Linked DNA regions of Homo sapiens. The protein of the gene in region 1 interacts with the protein of each later gene in a pairwise test. Each region holds a gene or a part of one and is shown on either strand. Other genes may lie near its edges.

Region 1 (7,035 bases):
AGACAGGTGGATCAGTTGAGGCCAGGAGTTTGAGACCAGCCTGGCCAACATGGTGAAACCCCATCTCTACTAAAAATACAAAAAAATTAGCCAGGCGTGGTGGTGGGCACTTGTAATCCCAGCTACTTGGGAGGCTGAGGCAGGAGAATTACTTGAACCCGGAAAGTGGAGGTTGCAGTAAACGAGACCGTGCCATTGCACTCCAGCCTGGGCAACAAGAACAAAACTCCGTCTCAAAAAAAAAGCTAGCTGGAATCACTTGCCTATGTTTTCCTTATACTGGTTATAGAATATTTACCTTGGGCCAAGCATGGCGGTTCACGCCTGTAATCCCAGCACTTTGGGAGGCCGAGGCAGGTGGATCACCTGAGGTCAGGAGTTTGAGACCAGCCTGGCCAACATGGTGAAACCCTGTCTCTACTAAAAAATACAAAAATTAGCCGGGTGTGTTGGCACACGCCTGTAGTCCCAGCTACTCGGGAGGCTGAGACAGGAGAATTGCTTGAACCGAGGAGGCGGAGGCTGCAGTGAGTCAGGATTGTGCCACTGCACTTCAGCCTGGGTAAGACAGAGGGAGACTCCATCTCAAATAAAATAAAATAAAATAAAAATTTAAAAAAGTAGGTATTGTTTATTTTTGTTATTTATTTATTCATTTTGGAGACAGGGTCTCACTCTGTCACCCAAGTTGGAGTGCAGTGTCGTCATCATGGCTCATTGCAGCCTCCACCTCCTGGGCTAAAGCAGATTCTCTCACCTCAGCCTCCAGAGTAGCTGGTGCTACAGGTGCAAGCCATCACGCCTAGCTAATTTTTTTTATTTTTTATTTTTTTGTAGAGACAGGGCCTCCCTATTTTGTCCAGGCTGGTCTTGAACTCCTGGGGTCAAGCAATCCTTCCACGTCGGCTTACCAAAGTGCTGGGATTGCAGGTGTGAGTCACCACACTTAGCCTAATTTTAGTTTTTTAAATAACCTTTTTGTAGGATAATTTTAGCTTTCCAGAAAAGTTGTAGAAATAGTACAGAGAGTTCCTATATATCCCTCACCCATTTTCCCCCATTACCACCTTACATAACCATGGTACATTCATCAAGACTAAGAAAGCAATATTGATGCATTTGAATTTCACCCGTTTTTCCTTTAATGTCCTTGTTCTGTTCCAGGATTCAATCTAGAATACCACATTATTGCATTTCATTTACCCTGAATTTTAAAGTGATATTTCCCTTTTAAATCTCCTAGAAAAGGCATATGGAAGGAGCATTTCTCTTTGCTGTTCTCCTACATTTCAAGCATATCTACCTCTATGTAGCACCAGCTTATGGTGTATATCTGCTGCGATCCTACTGTTTCACTGCAAATAAACCAGGCAAGTTTTGGTAATAATAGCAAAAACATTTTCGATTTTTCCCTTACTGTGTTGACTTGGTGGCTTGCTTGATAAGAAGGTTTTATGAAGCACAGCAGATATCTCAGCTGCTAATCCTGTAAGCCCTTTACCCATTCTCGCTTTTCTCTGCTCTTGCCACATCATGAATAGATTGGTATACTATTGTGGGATACTTCTAGTTTTAGCACATGATATAGGTTATGGTTAATGTTCCTTTCCATCTTCCTGGTTACTGATAATGTTCCTTTTCTGTAGATGGGTCTATTCGATGGAAGAGTTTCAGCTTTGTTCGTGTTATTTCCCTGGGACTGGTTGTTTTCTTAGTTTCTGCTCTTTCATTGGGTCCTTTCCTGGCCTTGGTAAGCCTTTTTTTTTTTTTTTTTCAATTAATACATGTTCTTTGTTGGTGTTTAGAAAACCTAATAAAGCCAGGAATATGTAAAATAAGTAAAAGCTACTTTTTTCTTACTCCTTACCCAACGTGACTCCCCAAAGATAGGGCAGTATTCCTTTTTTTTTTTTGTTTTTGTTTAAGATGGAGTCTCACTGTGTCGCCCAGGCTGGAATGCAGTGGCGTGATCTCGGCTCACTGCAACCTCCACCTCCTGGATTCAAGCGATTCTCCTGTCTCAGCCTCCTGAGTAGGTGGGATTACAGGCACATGCCACCATGCCTGGCTAATTTTTGTATTTTTAGTAGAGACAGGGTTTCAACATGTTGGTCAGGCTGGACTCGAACTTCTGACCTCAGGTGATCCACCTGCCTCAGCCTCCCAACGTGCTGGGATTAAAGGCATGAGCCACCGCTCTTGGCCCGATAAGGTAGTATTCTTTCAGACATTTTTGTGCACATTCAAATATGTATATATATATACATGTATATGTTTAACTGTACATTACACATACACAAACACAGAATTGATCTTCATTATTTGTGTATTCTGTACTTGTAAGTTTACTTACTTGATAAAATGTATTTGTAACAAAATCAATAATTTTGCAGTCTTACATGGACAGCAGACATTCTAAAGTGCATAGAATTTAACAGATGTTCAGATGTTTTCTTTCTTCCTCTTCTTCCCTGCCCTGAAATCAACTAATTAATTTTAATTCTTACTAAAACTGAAACGCGTCACATCTTTTGTAGTTTCCCAGCTCTCCCCTTCACCCTAGTAGACATGGATAAGCTGCAGTCTGTGTTCTGCTTTGTAGCTTGTAAATTCTTCTGTTATTATAATAGTATGGACGGGTATTCAGAGTATTTTTATGTATATTGTCCCACTGGACAGTGGACAAAGTGAGACCAAAAGAAGGTTCTGTGAACTTACATTGTGGTGAGCATATAACCACTTACTTACTAGAACCCAGACCCCATAACTTTCTACACACTATACCATAGAGAGTTCCCTAGTTCTCTTTTTGAATTTGAAAAAGATTGATGACTGTTTAATCAGTTTCATTTCTCTTTTCAACAGAATCAGCTGCCTCAAGTCTTTTCCCGACTCTTTCCTTTCAAGAGGGGCCTCTGTCATGCATATTGGGCTCCAAACTTCTGGGCTTTGTACAATGCTTTGGACAAAGTGCTGTCTGTCATCGGTATGGTAGCGAGCATTTTTTACTCAGACTCTGAATATTGAAAGGACTTAGGCACATGGAGAAATGGAAAAACCTTTGTGTTTTGAATGTGGCTGAATTGTTTGTTCTCCAGTCCTGCATTTCAGCTTTCAGGATGAACAGGGGGAGCAGTTCTTGGGACTGAGGCTTTAGTGCAGTAAACAGACTGTTTTCCTTATAAAAGCTCCTTGTGGTAATGAGGTTATTGATCCTTTCCTGGGGAAAAAATAAAATATGTAGACACTCTATAAAGGTAATTTTTGCCTTAATTAAAAAACTATTCAGCAGCAGCAGTTAACCCTGCTTTTTTTCCCCCCTTCTCACCATTCCTATTCAAACCCCTACTTATTTTTAGAGACAGGGTCTCACTGTCACCCAGGATGGAGTGCAATGGTGTTGAGATCATAGTGCACTGCAGCCTTAAATTCCTGGGCTCAAACAGTCCTCTTGTCTCAGCCTCCTGAGTTGCTGGGACCACAGGTGCATACCACCACACCTGGCTGATTTTTAAATTTTTGTTTTTTAGAGATGAGGGTCTCACTATGTTGCCCAGAGTGGGATCAAACTTCTGGTCTCAAATGATCCTCCCACCTTGGCTTCCCAAAGTGCTGGGATTACCAGCACAAGCCACCATGCCTGGCCTACCCCACTTTTAAACCTAAACATACAAGAAAGAAGAATATGTAAGTTGTGACTCTCGGTATTAAACCAGTAAGGAAAATAACCCTGCATTTTAACATGAGGTGAGAAGAAATGAAAAACCCAGGCTATGGTTTTTAAAATTGGGTCGTAATGAAAAATAAGTTATGGTTTGAGATGGTTCTACTAAAAATAACTCACTCTGGATAACACAGTCTCTCATTTGTGAATACAATCTAGCTTGGTGGGAAAATGGCATGATCAAGAGTGGTGGTCAGCAAACTTTTTCTGTAACTGGCCAGATAATATTTTAAGCTATGCAGGCCACACACAGTGTGTGTGTGTGTATGTGTGTCTGTGTCTGTATTTGTGTATGCACACATTTGTTTAAAACCTTATAAAAGTAAAAACCATTCATACTTCAGTGCTGTGCAAAAACTGGGCACAGGCTACATTTGGCTGTTGGCCTATAGTTTGTGGACTCCAGACCTAGAGTCTGATGACTTGGTTTGGAGGCTCACCTGTGTAAATTGCTATTGCAGTGTGTGGCATTGACAAGTCATTTGCTTCCTTTCGTCTAACTTTCCTCACTATACGAAAGACATACTAGTACTTTACCTGTACCTATACAGTGTGTTGTGAGGAACAGAAGCAAAATTTAAAAAGTACTAGGTTATCAGTAGCAGAGACTTTGGAGCCAGACAAACCTGAGTTCAGTTTTACCACCTATTAGTTGTGTGACTTTGGGCAGGTTACTCCATCTCTGTACCTCAGGGGGCTAAAAGTAGTAAGTGCAGAGCCCTGGGCACATGGTAGACGCTCCATGCATGGTGGCCACTATTACTGTTTTTGATAAGTACTTGGAGGAGATCATACACTGCCTATGTGATGACTTATACATTGTGTCACCGTGTTGCTCACTGTGAATCTAGCCTTGATGTACATGGCATTCTTACAGAGTAATTCCTAACATTCATATTTCAAAAAAAGCTTTAAACAGCCAGCATAGTATGAGGTACAAGGGCCAGTTGCCTTGTCTGAGTCAGGAAGCTGTACTGTACCCTCACTTGTATGTTTGTGTCTTTGAAGATGTTTTACATGGAAAGTCAGTGTCAGAGTTAGACAACTTTGTTTTAGGGAGATAGTTATTAGCTGTAAGAGAGAATCAGCAGGCCAAAGGGGAAAGGGGAAGAGGTTAGTAAGTAGAAAATATTTTGGTACATCTTTCCCACATTGTATTCATTTTCACTGGCATTTGACAGGCCCTATAGGTGCTCAAACTGTCTCTGACTGTCCTATTAGCCAGAGCTTGTTGGGGCTTGTATTGTCATTCTCTGAATTGATTTATTTAATAACCAAGTATTTATTGAGCTCCTATGTACTGGGGATAGAAATGAACTCATCATCATTCCTGCCTTCAAGGAATACAGTATAGTAGAGGAAATGAGCACATAAACAAGTGCAGTGCCTTGTGGTGAACACTGTTAGAGTGAGCTCACTCAGCTGTGCACGTTGGCTCAGGCCTGTAATCCTAGCACTTTGGGAGGCTGAGATGGGCGGATCACCTGAAGTCAGGAGCTCGAGACCAGCCTGGCCAACATGGTGACACCCCGTCTCTACTAAAAATACAAAAATTAGCCGGGCATGGTGGCACATGCCTGTAATCCCAGTTAATGGGGAGGCTGAGGCAGGAGAATCGCTGGAACCTGGAACCTGGGAGGCAGAGGCTGCAGTGAGCTGAGATTGCGCCACTGCATTCCAGCCTCTGTCTCTGGGTGACAGAGTAAGACTCCATCTCAAAAAAAAAAAGTGAGCTCACAAGAAAATCAGTTCTGCTTATTGATTTAGGAGCTTTCTCAGGTGATTGAATTAGAAGTTAATTTGGCAAAGGGAGTTGCCTGGGCAGAGGGACACAGGTGTTGAGAGTGGTATATTGAGGACTCACAGTTACTTCATTGTGGCCAAGCCGCATTTAACAAAGTAAAGATGAGATTGAACAGGGGGGAAGGGGCGATGAGATCATGGAAGACACTGGATACTATGTTTAGGAATAGAGGGTTTCTCCCATAGGAGATGAAGGATTCAAAGTTCCTTCATGACATGCTCAGACTGTTCTAGAAGCTTGCTTTCAGAGGTGAGAGCAGATTACCATTTGTGCTGCCTGCCAGCAAGTTTCCTATAAGCTGCACAAATTCCCTGTTCCAATGCAAAGAGCTGCTTTATATATTATAATCTTAAGACCAGAGGCATTTTGGGTAGAATAGTATAGGATTAAATTCATGAAATCTTAGCCTTTAAGCAGCAATAAGATTTAGTAGCTTACTTTTTATTCCTCAAGGAATTGATTGTTAATATATGGTATCTCAGTAATAAAGATAAAAATAAAACAAAACAAAATATCTGTTTAATAGGTTTGAAATTGAAATTTCTTGATCCCAACAATATTCCCAAGGCCTCAATGACAAGTGGTTTGGTTCAGCAGTTCCAACACACAGTCCTTCCCTCAGTGACTCCCTTGGCAACCCTCATCTGCACACTGATTGCCATATTGGTAAGAACTCAACAGATGGTGCTCATTTCTTGAGTTTTCTCTGCTTTTCTTTTGTCTGGCTGATTAAATTTCAACTTTCAAGCTCTTCCAACTGTAGGATAAATTTCATGCCTGTAATCCTTCTGCAGATTGAAGCATTTCCTAGCAATTCTTAGAGTAACTTTGAATACCATAAGGAAGGATTACCAGTAAAGCCTTTGTGAGAGATTCTTGCCAGTGGCTGTTAGACCATCTGTTCACCCGGGGGAAGGGAAAAAGAAAAGCCCAGAGAGGAAGAGGCATGGATCATGCTGCAGAGAAAGAAGGAAATGTTTGTGGCAGGGACATCCAGATTTGGTTTGTTTTTCTCACCGTTAGCTAAATCATCAAAATTCCAAATGTATCTGGACAGCGTGGATGTTTTGTCTTGATGGTGATAATGAGTTGAGAGAGTCGACAAAGGCTTTTTGAGCCTAAGATGAGCCTAATATGAGTAAGATGCTCTTAGAGGCCTCATTCTAAGTACTTTAGAAACTTTAATTTCTAAAATTTCATTAGTGATTGCAGTGACCTCAATTTCATGGTATAATTTTAGTAGAATTCAATATAAACAACTCAATCCTATCGATAATTACACTCATCTTTAATTTTGGTTTCTGAATGTTTCAAACCTGCTAGCAACCACCTGATTCCACTTAATTACATGACAGTACAGGTATGTAGATAATTAAGCTCTGTTGGGCTGTTTGTTCACATATTTTAATTGAGGTAAAACATTTTTCCTAAAATTTCAGCCTTATGAGGTACATATAGTTTCTATGGCCTTCCAGCCAATAAAACTAAGTATTTATTAATATGGTAA
Region 2 (7,035 bases), on another chromosome or scaffold:
CCATCCATGAGCATGGGATATGTTTCCATTTGTGTATGTCATGTATGATTTCTTTCAGCAGTGTTTTGTAGTTTTCCTTGTAGAGGTCTTTCAGCTCCTTGGTTAGGTGTATTCCTAAATACTTTATTTTTTGCAGCTATTATAAAAGGTGTTGGGTTCTTGATTTGATTCTCATCTTGGTCACTGTTGGTGTACAGCAGAGCTACTGATTTGTGTACATTAATTTTGTATCCTGAAACTTTGCTGAATTCATTTATCAGTTCTAAGAGCTTTTAGGAGGAGTCTTTAGGGTTTTCTAGGTATACAATCTTATCATCAGCAAACAGCGACAGTTTGACTTCCTCTTTACCTATTTGGATGCCCTTTATTTCCTTCTCTTGTCTGACTGCTCTGGCTAGGACTTCCAGTACTATGTTGAATAGAAGTGGTGAGAGTGGGCATCCTTGTCTTGTTCCAATTTTCAGAGGGAATGCTTCCAACTTCTCCCTGTTCAGTATTATGTTGGCTGTGGGTTTATCACAAATGGCTTTTATTTCACTGTGTTATGTCTCTTGTATGCTGATTTTGCTAAGGGTTTTAATCATAAAGGGATGCTGGATTTCATCAAATGCTTTTTCTGCGTCTACTGAGATGATCATGTGATTTTTGTTTTTAATTCTGTTTATGTGGTGAAAGACATTTATTGGCTTGCATATGTTAAACCATTCCTGCATCCCTGGTATGAAACCCAGTTGATCATGGTGGATTATCTTTTTGACATGCTGTTGGATTCGATTAGCTAGTATTTTGTTAAGGATTTTTGCATTGATGTTCATCAGGGATATTGGTCTGTAGTTTTCTTTTTTTGTTATGTCCTTTCCTGGTTTTGTTATTAGGGTGATACTGGCTTCATAGAATGTTTTAGGGAGGATTCCCTCTTTCTCTATCTTGTGGAATAGTGTCAATAGGATTGGTACCAATTCTTCTTTGAATGCCTGATAGAATTCAGCTGTGACTCCATCTGGTCCTGGACTTTTTTTTGTTGGCAATTTTTTTATTACTGATTCAGTCTCACTACTTAGTTGTCTGTTCAGGGTTTCTAATTCTTCCTGATTTAAGCTAGGAGGGTTGTGTCTTTCAAGGAATTTATCTCCTCTGCGTTTTCCAGTTTATGCATGTAAAGGTGTTAATAGTAGCCTTGAATGATCTTTTGTATTTCTGTGGTGTCAGTTGTAATATTTCCTGTTTTGTTTCTAATTAAGCTTATTTGGATTTTCTCTTTTCTTTTCTTGGTTAATCTTGTTAATGATATATCAATTTTATTTATCTTTTCAAACAACCAGCTTTTTGTTTCATTTATTTTTTGTATTTTTTTTCCTTCAATTTCATTTAGTTATTCTCTCATCTTGGTTATTTCCTTTCTTCTGCTGGGTTTGGTTTGTTCTTGTTTCTCTAGTTCCTTGAGGTGTGACCTTAGATTGTCTATTTGTGTTCTTTCATACTTTTTGATGTAGGCATTTAGGCTATGACCTTTCCCCTTAGCATTGCCTTTGCTGTATCCCAGAGGTTTTGATAGGTTGTGTCACTATTATTGTTCAGTTCAATTTTAAATTTCCATCTTGATTTTGCTGTTGACCCAATGATAATTCAGGAGGTTATTTAATTTCCATTTATTTGCATGGTTTTGAAGGTTCCTTTTGGAGTTGATTTCCAGTTTTATTCCACTGTGGTCTGAGAGAGTACTTGATATAATTTCAATTTTCTTAAATTTATTGAGACTTGTTTTATGGCCTATCATATAGTCTATCTTGGAGAAAGTTCCATGCACTGATGAATATTCTGCAGTTGTTGGGTAGAATGTTCTGTAAATATCTGTTAAGTTCATTTGTTCCAGGGTATAGTTTAAATCCATTGTTTCTTTGTTGACTTTGTCTTGATGTCCTGTCTAGTGCTGTCAGTGGAGTACTGACGTCTCCCACTATTATTGTGTTGCTGTATATCTCATTACTTAGGTCTGGTAGTGATTGTTTTATAAATTTGGGAGCTCCAGTGTTAGGTGTATGTATATTGAAGATTGTGAAATTTTCCTGTTGGGCAAGGCCTTTTATCATTATATAATGTCACCCTTTGTCTTTTTTAACTGCTGTTGCTTTTATGTTTGCTTTGTCTGATGTAAGAATAGCTACTTCTGCTTGCTTTTGGTGTCCATTTGCATGGAATGTCTTTTTCCACCCCTTTACCTTAAATTTATGTGAGTTCCTATGTGTTAGGCGAGTCTCTTGAAGGCAGCAGATACTTGGTTGGTGAATTCTTATCCATTCTGCAATTCTGTATCTTTTAAGTGGAGCATTTAGGCCATTTACATTCAATGTTAGTATTGAAATGTGAGGTACTATTCCAATCATTGTGTTATTTGTTGCCTATATACCTTGCTTTTTTTTTTAATTGTATTTTGTTTTATAGGTCCTGTGAGATTTATGCTTTAAAGAGGTTCTGTTTGGATGTGTTTCCAGGATTTGTTTCAAGATTTAGAGCTCCTTTCAGCTCTTGTAGTGCTGGCTTGGTGGTGAGTGGCAAATTCTTGTAGTTCTGGCTTGGTAGTTCTTGGAGTGCTGGCTTGGTAGTTCTTGGAGTGCTGGCTTGGTAGTGGTGAATTCTCTCAGCATTTGTTTGTCTGAAAAAGACTGTATCTTTCCTTTATTTATGAAGCTTAGTTTCACTGGATACAAAATTCTTGGCTGGTAATTGTTTTGTTTTGTTAGCATTGCCTTTGCTGTATCCCAGAGGTTTTGATAGGTTGTGTCACTATTATTGTTCAGTTCAATTTTAAATTTCCATATTGATTTTGCTGTTGACCCAATGATAATTCAGGAGGTTATTTAATTTCCATTTATTTATGGAAATTAATTATGAGGCTGAACATAGGGCCTCAATCCCTTCTAGCTTGTAGGGTTTCTGCTGAGAAATCTGCTGTTAATCTGAGAGGTTTTCCTTTATAGGTTATCTGGTGCTTTTGCCTCACAGCTCTTAAGATTCTTTCCTTCCTCTTGACTTTAGATAGCCTGATGACAATGTGCCTAGGCAATGATCTCTTTGCAATGAATTTCCCAGGTGTTCTTTGGGATTCTTGTATTTGGATGTTTAGGTCTCTAGCAAGTTTTCCTTGATTATTTCATCAAATGTGTTTTCCATACTTTCAGATGTATCTTCTTCCTCAGGAACTCCAATTATTCTTAGGTTTGTTTATTTAACATAATCCTAAACTTCTTGGAGGCTTTGTTCATTTTTTAAAATTCTTTTTTCTTTGTCTTCGTTGGATTAATTCAAAAACCTTGTCTTTGAGCTCTGAAGTTCTTTCTTCTGCTTCTTCGATTCTGTTGCTGAGACTTTCCAGAACATTTTGCATTTCTGTAAGTGTGTCCTTTATTTCCTGAAGTTGTAACTGTTTCTTATTTATGCTATCTATCTCATTGAAGATTTCTCCCCTCACTTCTTGTATCATTTTTTTGATTTCCTTAAATTGGACTTCACCTTTCTCTAGTGCCTCCTTGATTAACTTAATAATGGACCTTCTGAATTCTTTTTCAGGGAAGTCAGAGATTTCTTCTTGGTTTGGATCTATTGCTGGTGCTAGTGTGATTTTGTTGGGGCAGGTTAAAGAACCTTGTTTTGTCATATTACTAGAATTGTTGTTCTGGTTCCTTCTCATTTGGGTAGGCTATGGCAGAGGGAAGGGCTGGCACTCAAGGCTGCTGTTCAATTCTTTTGTCCCACAGGGTGTTCCCTTGATGTAGTACTCTCCCTGTTTTCTGAGGGATGTGGCTTCCTGACAGCCAGGCTGTAGTGATTGTCATTTCTCTTCTGGATCTAGCCCACCCAGCAGGGCTACCAGGCTCCAGGCTGGTACTGGGGTTGTCTGCATAGAGTCCTGTGATGTGAACCATCTTTAGGTCTCTCAGCTGGATACCAGCCCAATATTTGGCCTGTCTCTCAGGTCCTCCAGGAGCAATATGCTTCCTTCAGAGGGTCTGTGTATTCTCTCAGCTTTCCTGGTATATTCCTGCAGTAGTTCTGGAGCAAAAGCATGATGCAAGTCTCCACATGCTACTCGGTCCACCTGAGTGTGAGCTGCAACCTAATCCTGCCTCCTATCTTGCCATTTTCCCAATAACAGTCTCTCCAGAACACAAGTATTTTAAAAACTAACCCAGTACCATATTCTCACTAATCAAAGATGAGTTAAAATTTGATTGCTTATTTTTATGTTTCTTACATTGAATGTTTAATTAATGATTTTAAATTTTTTTGTGATTAATAGCAAAGATATTCAAGTCCATACATTTTTCTCAAAATACAACTTTAACTACATCTTATAACTTTGGGAGAGCCATGATAGTTATTTTTATTGGTCTTTTACATGAGGCATGGACTGAGGCTGTGTAAGAGAGAGAATCCATTTAGGATTATAAAAGAACAAAAGTAAGAAAAAACAGTATTGCTCTTTCTGAGTAACTCATTGAGATTAAAATCTGTCTCTGAGGCTTCTGTAACAAGCAAGTTTTTCTCTTCACAGAAGCATTTCAGGGGCCTGAGGCTAATGCTCCGCAAAGGATAGGACACCCAAAGAAGATGAGCTCTGTTCTGGGACCAAAAAACTGAGCAAAAATATTTTCATCCTCCTGGTTGACCTTTTTCATAAAAAGTTGAGTCAGCTCATTCTCATCTACATATTAATATTTGATATAACCTCCTTTTGGTAGAACAATCTTAATAAAGGCATCCCTGGTTCAGAGAAAACTTCAGATTTCAGGTCTTGACATTTTTGTCTTTGTTTTTTGTTTTTTTTTTGAGAGGGAGTCTTGCTCGTTCCCCCAGGCTGGACTGCAGTGGTGCTATCTCGGCTCACTGCAAGCTCCACCTCCTGGGTTCACGCCATTCTCCTGCCTCAGCCTCCTGAGTAGCTGGGATTACAGGCGCCCACCACCGTGCCCGGCTAATTTTTTATATTTTTAGTAGAGATGGGGTTTCACCGTGTTAGCCAAGATGGTCTTGATCTCCTAACCTCGTGATCCACCCGCCTCGGCCTCCCAAAGTGTTGGGATTACAGGCGTGAGCCACTGCACCCGGCCATTGTTTTTTTTTTTTTTAACAAATGAAGGTAAGTCATAGAGAAGATTACCACTCACTCCCTATCCCTAGTAGCAAAATGACTGTATAGCCTTATATGTATTTGACTTAAATTTGAAAAACCTTTAGAATACCAGAGAAATTGAAAACTAATACTTCCCTAGTACCTTGTATTATAAAAGAAAACAAACAAACAAAAAACAAGAAAACCCCAAGCTACTTAAAACAATATTTTTTCTGCATAGTAGGTGGATCTCTTTAACAATAGTCCACATGAATTCATCGATACGCCACTCAGAAAATTGAGCCAAACAGACCTGTTGTATACTCTGTACCACTTCTAGGCTTCTCGGGGCATTTGTTGACTTCCCATGGCCTGAACTGTTAGGAATATTAAGAAAGAATGGAAATAATTACCTTCTTCCTCATCTGGCACTGCCAGCCACTGGATCAGGGCAAAGAGCAGTAGGATCACCAAGCAGGCCATGCCAATTCCTCGGAAGGTTGCAGCAGCCCCTATAAAAACAAACAGCACTCTATAGAGTAATTCCAAGAAATGCAGATAGCGCTCATCTAAAACCATCAGTTTTCTAAAGATCAAAGCAAAGGAAGCACAGCTTGAGACAAACCAGAGAAAAGTAGTTGGGTATTAGCTCCACATAATGGAAAAACACAGGGCTGGGTACGTGTCAAGAGACCCAGGGCTGATATTGGATCTGTCATTGATCGATTATAAAACTGCATTTATATAGGATTATCTCTCAGTGCCTTTCACCATGACTCATACAATTCAATGGTGCTCTCCTCTTCATATGAAAAGACCATTTACCCAATTATTAACTAACAGCACTATTAATCTGTAGTTGGAACAGCAGTGCTCAAATAGTGCTATAAATGCACGCATTTCCTGGGGCCCACCTTATATATTAATAGATGACTGAGTAGTTAAGATTCCTGGAGCAGAATAATCTCATTCCTATTTCAGCTCCTATGTTTCTAATAAGGAAGATATGACAAGACAGACAGATATTGTTACCATAAATGTAGTAGCATTACCAAAGCCAGCATATGGTTAGATTCTTCTGGTTCAAAATCTCCTAATGGAATAACAATGATGAATTTTATTTCCTTTAGGGTTATTATCAGCAGGTTTAAGGTACCTTATTTTAGACCAAAAGCACTCATGCTAATTCATTTGTTTGGCTCCTTTGAGGGATCTCTGTAGCATCTCATTAAGCTGATTGTCAGAGGAGTGTGCACAGTTACAGGCTGGCTCAGATCAGCTTAACAACGTAAGCACACTGCTTTACAATTATGACTACCATGAAATCTAGAAAGAGATTATGAATACTGGAATTTAGCTTTGGGCAATCTTCAGTAATAATTGGATTGTTTATTGAGGTATTGCTGGAAAAAATCATGTTTTAATAATAGAAAAGAAAAAAAAGGAGAAAGCCATTCTTACCAAAATAATTGACTAACACGCCTCCGATCATGGCACCACATCCTCTTCCCAAACCCAGGTGAAGGCCCTGCAGGATGCCCTGAGCAGATGTCCTCAGCTCAGGGGGAACGGCTGCACTGAGGTAAGAAATGCATGCTGCCCAGATGGCCGCGTGTGTCACTCCTGGAGAGGAAGAAGAGCAGGAGGGATTAGTTGGTTAGCATTTCTTAGGCTACTCTGTTTTGAAATGTGAATTATTTAACTAGGCACCTATTTTTAAGATTTGTTGTGGGAAAACATACATTAAAAATTTACCATTTTCACATTTTTAAATGTACGGTTCAGTGGCACTGAGTACACTCACAGTGTTGTGCAGCTGTCACCACCATCCATCTCCAGAACTTTTTCACCACCACAACAAAAATTCTGTACCCCTTAAACCATAACTTACACTCACCCCTTGTCCCATCCCCTGACAACCACCA

Evidence for each region. The genes of interacting proteins can lie anywhere in the genome.
Region 2: the proteins of ALG8 (region 1) and MFSD6 interact in binary tests that used the Homo sapiens proteins (3 or more experiments, as listed by UniProt).

Annotation. Positions count from the first base shown.
Region 1 is NC_000011.10:78,108,601-78,115,635, reverse strand, and holds part of ALG8 (dolichyl pyrophosphate Glc1Man9GlcNAc2 alpha-1,3-glucosyltransferase), read left to right. Parts: intron 1-837; coding exon of another isoform or gene 838-930; intron 931-1,243; coding exon 1,244-1,370; intron 1,371-1,646; coding exon 1,647-1,750; intron 1,751-2,865; coding exon 2,866-2,986; intron 2,987-6,054; coding exon 6,055-6,194; intron 6,195-7,035.
Region 2 is NC_000002.12:190,488,355-190,495,389, reverse strand, and holds part of MFSD6 (major facilitator superfamily domain-containing protein 6), read right to left. Parts: intron 6,734-7,035; coding exon 6,572-6,733; intron 5,623-6,571; coding exon 5,524-5,622; intron 4,777-5,523; exon of another isoform or gene 4,572-4,776; coding exon of another isoform or gene 4,553-4,571; intron 1-4,552.